Regions from separate parts of the Homo sapiens genome. Here region 2 is linked to region 1. A link means that fine-mapping ties the variant in region 1 to the expression of a gene that starts in the linked region. Tissue or cell type: whole blood. Region 1 holds a variant in brackets; the other region holds the start of a gene. All regions are shown on one strand. Distances are between the middles of the regions.

Evidence for each region. PIP is the estimated chance that this variant, and not a neighbour inherited with it, causes the effect.
Region 2: it holds the start of ESR1, and the variant in region 1 is fine-mapped to the expression of ESR1 in whole blood (TOPMed, PIP 0.98).

Annotation. Positions count from the first base shown.
Region 1 is chr6:151,690,467-151,693,230 of GRCh38, reverse strand. It overlaps a transcript of ESR1 not described here. Among named protein-coding and RNA genes, the nearest start is that of ESR1, 120 kb to the left of the region's middle. The variant G/AAG (reference allele first, on the strand shown) is at 1,519.
Region 2 is chr6:151,806,047-151,808,810 of GRCh38, reverse strand. ESR1 (estrogen receptor 1) reads right to left here and starts at 1,129. Exons shown (of 8, transcript NM_000125.4): 1 at 447-1,129. The coding sequence starts at 898.

The DNA.
Region 1 (2,764 bases):
CCAGGCACTGTGCTAGGCTTAGAATAGAAATAACTTCCTCATACTGAGTTTCTAATGCTTGGAAACTGCAAGGAGTTTAATGAGTGGCTTAATGTCATTTATTCCATATAATATATCTGGTAGCTACTGTTAGTACTCCCACTTTGCAGATGAGAAATTCAAGGCATGAGGTTAAATAATCTGCCTCTAAATTGCACAGCTAGAGAGTGGTGGGAGCTATGGCTGGTACTCAGTCATTTTCCATGGATCTGAATTAAACTACTTAATATCAGAATTCTTACTGAAGAGTGATCTGCTGTGGAAAACCTGAGCAGAGGTATCAGCTTTCCAGCGAATATTTTTAGGGGCAGATGGATAGGGTAAGCCCCTTCATTCTCCGAAAGAATCACAGACTTTCAGAGAGAAAAATGTTATACGCCTTAGATAGAACGATAAAACTCAATGATGTGTACGCTTTTGCTGTTGGGTCCAGTGGGAATGATTCAGAGGAAGTCTACTGAGATGTTGCCCAGAAGGCAGGCACACCATCATCACTCTTACCTGTACAGTGCACGCCTTTCAAAATAGCACTTCATTAGACAATATGCAGGAGGTTTCACAGATGGCGCCTCTTTCTCGGAGATTAACAATGGAGACCCTCTCCTGATAGAGGTGGATGGACAGGACCATATCTCCACTGCCATAGATGAAGACTATGCTATGACTTTTTTTTTTACAGTGTGGATGGTCTACCCAGAGCTGGGTCACTCTCTTCCTTGCCCTTTTTTCCGAATAGCCAATCTGCAGTCCTGGAGCACAGCTGTTCCCTATTCAAAGCAAAGTAAACTCAACCACCAGGCCGTCAGCCCAAGCGATTGTTCTGAGCAACTAGGATAAATGAATGCAGACAGACTCAGAGAAGACCTGCAGATAACCATGTGAAAATGTTTAGCAGATGCCTGATGTAAATACTTACACTGTGTGGAGGTTTAGAGTGAGTGTTTGAAGGGAAGGTAGATGGTAGCTAGCTCTAAACCCAATATTGAACAAAAAGACACAGAGTTATCAGAAACGAAAGATAGTTGGACTTTGTTCTTGCTGCAAGTTTAAGACACAAGAGCTTTATTCCTTTCCTTGACTGTCACAAGCAATAAAATGAAACACGTATCTCCAAATGTCCAAGAAAAATCTTCTACTCGTAAATACGACGCTTGTATTCTTAAGGAAAATTTTGCTTTTTTCCTACATGTCGTATCTTTTACCTACATTGTTTTTATTTGTAATTTCCTTGAAAATCTGACATTCTAGAGTATTTTATCCAACTGCTACAGCATTATCTGCATGCATTCCAAGGCCTAGTGGGCAGTCATCACAGGATATTAACAAAATCAAAGAAAATATTTGCTTTTGAGAAATAGGAAGGGATTTTATGGTATACAAATGGACCCTGAACCATCCATGGTTCTCAAACATTCTCATCCAATTTAAGTTCTCTGTACGTTTCAGAATTCAGTTCAAATACTTCTACCTGGTCTTCCT[G/AAG]TTTACTCTCAATATTAAAATATGTATATACCACATTCAAAACCAGATGAGTTTCCCAGCAACCTCATATACATGGAGTTGCTCTGTAAGCCTATTAGATCTGGCACATAAAGGCATTAAAAATCTGGCACCTTTAAGCAGGAACCATTGCCATGATCACAAGTCCTGATTAAGCCCAACCCTTCTATCGAGTAAATTGCTTTAAAATCTTTTAATCATGTTGGCTCCTACGGACTTGTTTGAGAGAATACTGGTTATCTTCTTGACAAAGTATGAAACTTACAGTTCAGCGAGCATTTCCTAAGACATGTGGCATTCCTCTAACCAAAATGAAAGTATTCTGCCCTGTCTTGTGACTGCCACATCATTACCCGAGTAGCCCACTGCTATATGTGGTGGAGTCATTATGTATGTGCCATTGTGAGGCAAAAAGGAACTGAGAAAATGGGACACCAGGACTCAAAAGAGCTTGCTTAAAATCAGAGGCCCATTTCAAGACAGAGGGGCTCGTTCTTTTGCTGCTAAATGTGTAGCTTTTCAGAAAACTTGACTGCCTTTAGGAAACAAATAATGGCTTATTCACATCGCTTAGTTCAAACTCACGTAAGTTATGGCTCCAAAGATTCAGAAAACAGGTAGTGTGTTCATGCTACTCTGAGATTTGTCCAATTAAGAGCTTATAAAATTCTAACACAGTTCAACAATACAGTGTCTCCTAGCTAGTGCTAGATCCAATACATTTATGTTATCTGGAACAGACAGGCAGCCTGTGTGTGCTGTACTAAGAAAAGGGTAGTCGGATTGCCCTCTGCCTCAGCTAAATATTATTCTAGAAGTGAATTTCCACTGTACCAAGTTTAGATTTCACATTTTATCATCCCAGGAATACTTGCCAGTAACTTTGCAAAATATCCTTGGAGCAGAAAGACAAAAAAATGAACATTTTTTAAAGATGAGAGGTAAGCTCTGAAGTTACAATATGCTTGTAAACAGTAGCACATTATATCAAAAAGGAAAAAATAAATTGAGAAGAAATAGGAGTACCTACTTGAAGAGAAGATTATCACTCAGAGACTGTCTTCTTATGCTATAGAATGGGCAGGAGAAAGGAGCATGGACCTTTCGAGCCTGTTAAAGAGCTTCTGAGCATGGAGCCTGCATTTTCAGTTTTGGTAAAATCCGTTCTGAGTCGGTAGACAGGAGGCTGTTATGACCATGAAATTAGGAAATGCAGTAACTCAAAAAT
Region 2 (2,764 bases), 120 kb before region 1:
TAAATAAAACTCTGCTGAGCTCTGCTAACTCCAAACACCCCCAACTTTAAATGCCAAGAGCGAGACCTTCCCAAGTGACTCAAAGCGCCCCGTGTTTATTTGCCTGGAGGTGTTTTCCCCCACAAATAACTGCTGCTTTGTCTGGTTTTCCAACGTGTGTTTTGTTAGGAAGCCCGGGCTTTCGGGTCTGCCTCTCGCACGGACGGTAAGTGGGTGGAGAGTACGTTTTTTTCAGCTGCCCGGCGAGAGAACTTGACTCTGAACGCAGCGCGGGCTGCACGCAGAACCCCCGGGCTGGGCCGCGCGCCCCGGGCTCCCTGCGCGCACCCTCGGGTCGCGCGTCCCGCGGCTCCCGCAGCTCCCTAGGCTCTCCCTTCTCCCTCCCTCCCTCCCTCCCTCCTGCCGGGCGCGGCGGCCACCCCGACGGGCGGCGCGGGCGCGGGTACCTGTAGAATGCCGGCGGGCCGGCCTCGCGCACCGTGTAGCCGCTGGGCTCGTTCTCCAGGTAGTAGGGCACCTGCTGGCCGTGGGGCTGCAGGAAAGGCGACAGCTGCGGCGGCGGGTGCAGTAGCATCAGCGGGCTCGGAGACACGCTGTTGAGTGGGGGGAAACCCCCCAGGCCGTTGGAGCCGAACGCCGCAGCCTCAGACCCGGGGCCGTAGGGGAGGCCGGTCTGACCGTAGACCTGCGCGTTGGCGGCGGCCGCGGCGTTGAACTCGTAGGCGGCGCCCTCGGGGTAGTTGTACACGGCGGGCTTGCTGCTGTCCAGGTACACCTCGCCCAGGGGCCGCTCCAGGGGGATCTTGAGCTGCGGACGGTTCAGGGGCTCCAGCTCGTTCCCTTGGATCTGATGCAGTAGGGCCATCCCAGATGCTTTGGTGTGGAGGGTCATGGTCATGGTCCGTGGCCGCGGGCAGGGTGCAGACCGTGTCCCCGCAGGGCAGAAGGCTCAGAAACCGGCGGGCCACCTGGAAAAAGAGCACAGCCCGAGGTTAGAGGCGACGCAGCGCATGTCCCGCCGACACGCGAGCTCTGGCCCCGGCCCTGCCCCGGGAGCCTGCGGGTCCGGTGAAGCCGGGCGACCCGACGGGAGCAAGTGCAGTCCCAGGACGAACGCCCTCCGCCAGCTCCTGGGCTCCCGGGCCTCCAACTTTAAGTACTGGTCTCCCGAGCTCATATGCATTACAAAGGTGCTGGAGGACGGCCAGGGACTGTTGCCTTGCCCTGACATTGGCTTAAACATCACTCCAGGCACAACTCGATTTGGAGCGATCCCAAAGAGCAGCTTCCCTGAACTTTACTTTACTTGTCGTCGCTGCTGGATAGAGGCTGAGTTTCACGGCCAGGGGGCGGGGGCGCACGAGGATCTGCTAAAGGTGGCCCAGGGAAGACTGGGCTTAAAATAAACGCGAAAGACGGATCCAGGGGCCGGCTTTCTCTAATGTGCTGCCTTATGTGCCCCGTGCCAGACTCCGATATATCTCTGTTTGTCTCTCTTTCTGTTTGATTCCCCCTCCTCGTTGGCTAGAAATACGTAGTGTGTACATAGGATGACCCTGGGGAGGACTACACTGTAACCGAGATAGGGCAGATAGAATGGGGTGTGCGGTTGCATACGCAGCCAGCCACAGACAGCTATATTTAGCAGCTGGGGGAACTGACAGGGGGCATCTGAGGGGAAGGGGGCGGAGATTCAGGGTATACATATAGGAAGAGCTGCATTTTGCCATCAGGAGAATGCAACCTGCCAGGACCTCAGTTTCTTCCTCTGCAAAATGCTCCCAAAGTAGATAGACCCTTCCACAACCTTCTGAGATTCTCTCAGCCTGACTTGTGTGTTTATGTTGGACCACAGTACTGTACTTGGTCCCATTAGGAATTCTCATGTGAAGGATGATTCAGAAAAACCTTTGGTTAGGGCGCACATGGGTGTTCATGCCTTCCACAGGTTGGTTATGCAACCAAAACTTCAGAAAACTGAATATAAAATGTGACCTTTTCATACCAAACATAACCTCAGGTCACGAACCAAAGCTTTGGCAATTATGTTACATTGTCGGTCTGGTCCAGCTAACAGATTTTTAAAATGCATTTCTGCATGTCTATCCTTTAGTCCTACAACTCGATCTTCTCGGTTCACTTGGGCTAGGATATGCAGAATCAAATATCCAGATGAAAAACAAATAGAAAAAAGTTTTTAACTGAATTAAAAGTTAAACATGCACACGCACATACACACACACATATATGTGTATATATATATATATATATATATATATACATATTAAGGAGACAAAAAATAGGTGAAGTATATCATGCGTCTATAATCTTGGATAGTTTATACTTTTGAATAAACTTCCTTTGCTGCAGCCTAATAGACTCTGATACAACTATCAATACTTTGTTTTAATTGCTATCCCAAACACCCAACAGAGTATCTGACGAAGTGTTCATGGTCTATCTAAATGCCAAGCTTACTGTTACTAAGAGTTACATTTTTGACTATTTTATATCAAGTATACATTTTATCTAATTCTTACAAAAATAGACCATTGTTGGACAATATGCAAATGTAGCTGAAGCCAAAATCGAGTTTAGCATTAATGACTATAGATTGTCAGCAAATAAAGGGTTAAAAACACATTAGGTGCATCGCAGATATTTCCCTTTATGGCCAGCAATCATTACTTTCCAAAGCAATTTTTTACAGATGATTTAATTTCCATAAATCACACTTTCAATTTTCAAATGCCTTTTTAAAACA